Linked DNA regions of Homo sapiens. The protein of the gene in region 1 interacts with the protein of each later gene in a pairwise test. Each region holds a gene or a part of one and is shown in the gene's direction. Other genes may lie near its edges.

Region 1 (3,750 bases):
CATCTCAGACTTCTGAGTAGCCAGGAGCTGGCTATTTTTCTTTATTTCTTTCTTTCTTTCTTTTTTTATTTTTGTAGAGATGGGGTAGCAATTTGATTAAAAACTATCAGATTCCCTACTTTTTCCCATACTACTTCCAACTTAGGACCAAACAGAGAAAGCCAAAAATTTCCCCCTACCAATTACATAAGATTCCCTGCTTCTAGTTAGCCCGCCTGTAGTTTCCCCATGCCAGCAACTTCCAATAAGGGAATACCTGAAGCCATTCCTTTTTTCCACTGTGAAGCTTTCCCCACTCTTCTGCCTGACTTTCAGTCTGCTGAATGCAAGTGATGAGGGCTGACTCTCTTGTCATATATAGCAAGCTCTGAATAATAGTCTTTGTTCTCATTTGAATAATCTTTATTTTCACACTTCTTAAAAAATTTAATTTCCTGGCATGTTGCATAATGTTAGGTAAGCCATTTTCTCTCTTTGGGCCTTACTTTCTTCAACTGAAAAACTGGTTCAACATTTATTCATTCTTTTATTCCGTAAGCCAAAAATAAAATTCAAAGCCCTCTGACCATATGAATGGATCTCTCCTCTTGGCTAAGGGCATTCCAAAGTTAACGTGAAAAACTGGTTCAGGCCATAATGGGAAGGAGGAGTTGGACATGGCTCATTATGCTCCCCTACCTTTTGAAATTCAGGACCAGCTGACCAGCATTAACATCAACACAGACCTTAAGACTGATAGAACAGCCTCTTTAAGTCTCACAGACTATCCGGTAGTGTGATAATGATGAGAAACATTTGCAGTCTATTCTCTGAAGCCTGCTACAGGCTCCATCTGCATGATAAAACTTTGGTCTCCACAAGCCCTTATCTTAACTGAGACATCCCTTTCTATTGATTCTAAGTCTTTATACAATAACTTAACTCTTTCAACCAATTGCCACTCAGAAAATCTTTGAATCCACCTATGTCCTGAAAGCCTCCTCTTCCAGTTGTCCCACCTTTCCATACCGAACCAACGTACATCTTACATGTATTAATTGATGTCTTATGTCTTCCTAAAATGTGTAAAACCAAGTTGTAGCCCGACCACGTTGGGCACATGTTCTCAGGATCTCCTGGGGCTGTGGCACGGGCCATGGTCACTCATATTTGGCTCAGGATAAATCCCTTCAAATATTTTACAGTTTGACTTTTCGTGGACAATTCTACAAATATTCCTTGGCAGTTAAAGAAATAACTCCCCAGGAGGTGCTAGACATCGGGCGCATGTTAGAGGCACAAAGATGAGAATGTTAAAAGACATAAAATACAGGTCTGCTCTGGGAATGCAAAAACTGGTAAAAGGAGAGATAAAAGAGCAGGTGCAGTCTAGTGAAGTACCCGCTACCTCCTATCAGCAAATATCTGTCCACCTAGGGTGCAGCGAGCTGGAGAGGAAGGGGTGGCCTAGAGCGCAGGGGAAGGATTCCTCCCCAGCCGCCTGCACCCCTACCCCGGTAGCGGTCCCTGGGATCGTCCGTGTCTCCAGGAGAACCGGACCGCTCTCCCCTCCCTCCCCGAGCGAGAAAGGAGGACCACAGAGATGCGGCGCCCTCCGCCGTCCTAGAGCAACCGGAGCGGCCCGAGCCCCGGCCTCCCGGATGCTGGGGCCTGGCGGGTGTGGAGCACGGGGAGTCGGGCGTGGGGCGGGCAGGGAGTGGAGTCGGGGTCTTACTCCGGTGGCTGCAGGGCGCAGGGTAGCCGTGTCAGGCCTGCCCAGGTGCAGAGCGCTCTTCCGCGACCCCAACAGCCTCTGGTCCGGTCTGGCGCGCCCTCGCTTTCCCAGAGGGCGACCTGGGCTATGGCGGCCGTGGCGCTGGCGAGCGGGACACGCCTCGGCCTTGTCCTCGAGCTGCTCCCGGGACAGCCCGCGCTGCCCCGGGCGCGCCGGGTGAGTGCGGGGCCGGAGCCTGGAAGCAGTCTTGGCCCTGCCCTGGGTTCTAGGCCCGGAGACGGGGTGGTGCGGCGGCTGGGAAATGGGGGTACAACCCAGAGTGAGGGGCCTCGAGGGACAGGCAGCACAGCGGAGTCGACACCCCTGGACCTGAGCCTCAAGGAGAGCAGACGTGCAGCGGCACGGGGTTGAGCCGACTGCTGGGGCAGAGCGCACAGAGTGCTGTCGGGGGCGATGAATGGCCAGAATTTCAGAGCTGCCTTTACAGAGCTGGTTATGTTTGAGCTGGGTATTAGGTTGAAAAGGAATTTGCAATGCAGGAGCAGGAAGGAAGAACTGGATATTCAGGCAAGAGTAGCCGCAGGTGCAAGGACACAGAACAGGGTGAGGAAAGAGTTTGGTTTCCCAATGCAATGGTGAGAGGATCGGAGATGAGAGTGGTGGTGGCTGATGATCCTGGCCAGGAAAGCTGGGTCTGTGAGTAGTGAATGGAATTGTCTGTAGTGCAGAGGAATGTGGACTCTATTAGGCAGACAAAGTTGAGCCAGCCAAAGCCTTGGAGCCCTGGAGTGCTGGATAAATAGCTGTGGAGACTTTCTAGTGCGCAAGGACTGAAGTGCAGTGGACCAGAATGGGCTCCTCCACAGTGTGGAGACTGAGACCCTGAAGGAGGCAGTGGCTGAGAATTACGGGAAGTCCCAACGGCTGGAGGTCAGCAGTATTTGTTTCTTAAGAGGATGAGAGAAAGAAGGTGCAGGAGCTGAGACTCCTAGAGATATAGAAAATGGGGACATGGAGATTGGGACGTGGGTAAGCAAGTGAGGTGGGATCTTTGTGAGAGTGTTGCGGGTGGTGGGGGTGCAGGGAGTAAAGTCACAACGAGGATCTGCCCTGTTGAGTACAGTGTTCAGAGCAACCTGAATGTTCTGAGGAGCCCTAGCTGCCTCTGTGGCTGGTGGCAGTGACTGGGGAGGACAAAGGAGGAAGAGTCCTATACAGGGGCAGCAGGGATGGCAGGAATGGGGACGGAAGGCAGTGTGGCATAACAGGCAAGAGCCAGAGTCAAACAGGCCTGGGTTCTGTCTCAGTTCTGGAACTTTGGGGGAAGTTAATCCCTCCGAGTCTCAGTTTCCTCTTCTAAAAAACGGATCTGATAGTAGGCTATGAGACATAACAAAGAATATATGTCAAGTGCTTGGCACAGGCTTAATAAATGATAGTTGTTATCAAGGGTGGGTGACCTCTGAAGGAGGACACATTGTGGAGAGAGGATGGGACCTAGAGCACAGATGTGGTTTGGGGTATAAGGATGAAACAAGAAAACTTTTGCAGACTCATGAAAAAGAGGAGAAAATGTTTGCTGAAATAAAGATGAAGAGACATGAGAAAATTGATGGCTGATGCCTTGTCTCTTTGTACATAGGAGGCAAAAATCTTCTGCTGATAGAGTTCCTGTAGACATTCAGAATCCAGAATCCCCACAGGCACCCCCACAGTACCTTTTGATGCCCTGTCTCCCCTTCCTCTTGGCCTGGTCCTGGGGTTGTCCTAGGGCATTTAAACACATGTTGTTTCAGGAGTCAGTGACCTTCGAGGATGTGGCCGTCTACTTCTCTGAGAACGAATGGATCGGCCTGGGCCCTGCTCAGAGAGCCCTGTACAGGGATGTGATGCTGGAGAATTATGGGGCTGTGGCTTCCCTGGGTAAGGGTCTCTCCCTTTGGGCCCTGCCTCCACCCTTGAGAGTTTGCTGGCTCCTTTTTTCTCAAAGGCTCAGGAGTTGTTGATAACCCTCAGCTCAATGGCAGCTTCAGGCT
Region 2 (3,650 bases), on another chromosome or scaffold:
TGTAGGTGGGCATGGACTAATTTTAGGGCGTGATGTGGAAATAGTATTCGTATTACTGTTTAATATGTTCTCCTTTCTTTTATTAGGCAAGAAAAAGTCATATTTCCCACGTTGTTCATGGGTAACTGAATTTGTTTGCTGTGCTCTTTTTCATTCTTTCTTAATCCTGGTGTGTGGTGGAAGACACATTAACAATCTGGTTTTACTAACTGCATGGGGCTGACTCAGCTTTAACCAACTTACAGCCCATCAGTGAACTTTCACGGTCCTGTTCGACTTGACTGTATGCCGTTATTAGTTCAGCTGTGAGAAACAAGAACAAATTAGTTGCAGTGGTCCTGGGGTGGCTGGGAGTAGCATGCCAGGTGGCACGCCTGAGATGGGCTAGGGCGCTGTAGTGTTGATTTCAGAGTCTGGCGATGGGGGTTTGAGGTCACTGTCAGGCCCTGGGATCACCTTTGACTGTCTTCCTGGGACTGGGGGTCTTCCCGTTACCCAGTTGCTTCTGTTTTCTCAAGTCAGGCACCAGTGTGAGCATTCCCTCACCTCTGCGCTCACGCATGGAGTCCCCAGTTAAAATGGAATGGTACATGGGGACGTGTGTAAGATCTGCCTTACATTTCAGAACTGCTTTGCAGTTTGCAGAGCCTGGGCTGAGAACTGGAGCAGGCTGGAGCTGCTCTGAGCCCACACTCATCCACTGAAATAGGAGACTCAGGTGTGGCGTGTGCCTGCCTGCAGGCTCTTCTGGATAGCTTGAGCCCACCCTCCTGCCCTCTCCAGTGTCCTGATCCTTGCTGCTTTGACAGAGTTAATGTTTCCATCCTTCATCTCAGCTGCTTTGGATTTATTGTCCTGAGTAGCTTCTAAGTGTGCCTTGGCTCTTCCCCCTTTTCACTTCTTCCACTGACATTTTACAACTGACCTTAGCACTTTTTCTTAGCTGGATTCTCTATATTTCAGCCTCCTTAACTAGTCTGTGGTGGTAAGATCATGAAATTTTATAGCTCTGGAACCTTTTTTTTACATATATGATTCCCAGATCTGTATCTTCAAGCCTGCCCCATCACTCTTCCTTCAGTCCTGTCTTGTGCACTGGGACATTGCCCTGTGGCTCTTTGCTGCTCCCTGAAACTGAATCTGTTGAATATAGAGTCTCTTCTCTTGCAAATCTTTTCCCCATGCACAGCTTTGCAGGCCTCTGAAGGACTTCACTAGACCTGTCATCCCATCTAGAAGGCCAGCTTTCTTCTCTCTCTGTTCTTTAACTTTCTACTTTTTGAGTCAGGAGAGAGGCGCTAGGTGAGACCCTGGTGGATTGATGTTCCCTCTCTACTCCACCCACCTTCACATTAAGCGTTCCATTTCTGCCCATGTAGAAATTTACCGGTTCTCTCTTTATAGTCTGGGCTGCACCACTTACTTTTCCCATTAGAGCCGGCCTGCATTGGAGTGCCGAAGTGGTTGCTTCTGAGGGCTGCTAGGTGGCCTCTGACCAGGAGGAGACTAGAAAAGGGTCCTGGCCTGGGCATCTGGAGGCAGCTGTGGCCCCGACTTCCCCATCAGTGGCTCACTAGGTGAGCCTAGGCTAATGGCTGGACCTTCTCTTGCTTTGGTTGTCTTGGCAGTGGAACAGTGGGATGAACCTGTTGTTCCTTACGGTGCACTTGAAAATGCCAGAATCCCATCCTCAACCTGCTTGAGGAGCCATCTCCTAGTTGCTGCTTTTGTACACCCCCGTGGCCCAGGTGCCAGATTCTTCTTGGCATCCAATGGTGCTCCCTTTCTGCTGGGTTCCGGGCACTGTCTGCAGTACAGGTTTAGGGGCTTGCCTGCCACTGTGATGTGTGAGGCCAGGAATCTGAGGTTCACACGTGCTGAGAGCTGCAGGCATTTGTGGGGCCTGCCTGGTTGTCCCTGAGGTTTCTAGGAGAAGCAGGTGTCAGGGACTCTGGGACTAGCCAGACAGATGGAGCCTATTATATGAGGGCTACCGTGGCAAATAGGATATGGCCTTGGCCCCAGAAGAGGCACAGGCCTGTGACCTTGGGAGAGTGGGAAGGATGATTTCAAACTTGCAAATGTGTTGAAGCTCAAAAATCAGACCTAACCCAGTGAGGAAAGAGACAATCTGGCTGTTTGTCGTCGAAGTAGGACAGTGTGCAACAGGGAGAAATGACATTTGTCAGAGCCTTTCTCCTGGGGCTCTTGGTCTCTGTATGCGTGGTTGGAATTTAAACTCCACATATGTACTCTGAGTTTAGTTTCTTTAGACATGAACTTTGTTTCTTCCAAGTAGGCAGGGACTATTTGTCAAGTCTCTGCATGCCTGTTTGTCTGTGAGGTTATCCTCACCCCGTCAGTGTACGAAACAGCTGTCTCTGCAGGGAGTGTGTGTCGGCATTTTTTTTTTTTAAGGAGAACCTCTCTCCATGAGTCTGTATTTAGCTCCCTGGAGCCGTCTGATGAGTAGGTGGGGGCAGTAGTGGGCAGGTGTGGTGCAGTGTGGCCCCTTGTCGTAGTTGGCTTTATCTCCCAAATTGCTAGTGGGACAAATTTTCCTAGGAAGCGTTTCAAGGTGGAAAGGCTGAAGTGGCTCCTGAGAGAGGTTCCAGGCTGCACACTCCCTCCCCCTCTTGCTGCTTCCTGTGGCTGCGCTGCATGGTGCGTGAGGGGGATGCTTGGGGGGCTCCCTGCATCGCTGGGCTCTGGGTGCGTGATGGGGACGCTGGGGGGCTCCCTGTGTCGCTGGGCTCCGGGTGCTGGGTCCTGGCTGCAGGCTATTGGGTTGGGCTGGGCTGTCTGCACACGAGTCTGCGTTGAAAAGCCTACTCATCTGGCGTTGCTTGCTAAACAATTTTTAAAAGGTTATTTTTCTCCACCTTATTAAGATATTCGTGTATTAATACATTATATTTGGAAAATGTAAGGAGATTTGGAAAATGATTAAAAAAGGATAAAGTAGTAAACAAAATTCACCCACAGCCCAGAGGGAAGAAAAGTAACGATTCTTAAATTTTCTTTTTATGATATATATGATCCTATGTACATATATGTTGGTGTGTGTATATATATATGTGTATGCGTATATATAATGTATGTATATATACATTTATTTATACACACTCCCCCTCTGTCCCTGCTTTGTGGATTTAGCTGCATGGATAGTAATGTCTATCTAAGGGGCTATAGTCTAGAATCTAGAATATATACTATTTGCTTTTTTTTCTTTCATATCATTGAATCTACAGAGTTTGGTAACCTGCATCTTTTTCCACTTAGTGTTAGTTACATTCTGAATATTTTCCCATGCTATTAAAAAACTTGTGGAATGTGTTTTTAATGGCTGTGCAATATCTTATTGTTCAGTTGTACCATTATTTATTTAACTAGTTCCCTATTGCCAGGCATTTAGACCTGCTTTATGGGGAAAGAATCAGGACTGTGGCTTCCGTGGCCAGTGTGCGGCAGTTGCCAAACAGGTCATGTGGTCCTGGTTCCCCAGGATTCCCAAAGGCTCAATTCTCTAACCAGCTGGTGCTTTCCAGGCAGCCAGTGCCCCTTGGGCCATCAGGACCCTACAGCCTGCGAGGAATAGTTTTAGAAAGCAGATTAATTTCCTATTGTGTGTGAGTGATTTTAAATGAGTT

Evidence for each region. The genes of interacting proteins can lie anywhere in the genome.
Region 2: the proteins of ZNF662 (region 1) and NDEL1 interact in binary tests that used the Homo sapiens proteins (3 or more experiments, as listed by UniProt).

What each region holds. Positions count from the first base shown.
Region 1 is NC_000003.12:42,904,512-42,908,261, forward strand, and holds the start of ZNF662 (zinc finger protein 662), read left to right. Parts: upstream 1-1,630; 5' UTR 1,631-1,657; exon of another isoform or gene 1,658-1,840; coding exon of another isoform or gene 1,841-1,930; intron 1,931-3,510; coding exon of another isoform or gene 3,511-3,603; coding exon 3,604-3,637; intron 3,638-3,750. UniProt on the Homo sapiens protein: May be involved in transcriptional regulation.
Region 2 is NC_000017.11:8,463,234-8,466,883, forward strand, and holds part of NDEL1 (nuclear distribution protein nudE-like 1), read left to right. Parts: intron 1-86; coding exon of another isoform or gene 87-121; intron 122-3,650. UniProt on the Homo sapiens protein: Required for organization of the cellular microtubule array and microtubule anchoring at the centrosome. May regulate microtubule organization at least in part by targeting the microtubule severing protein KATNA1 to the centrosome.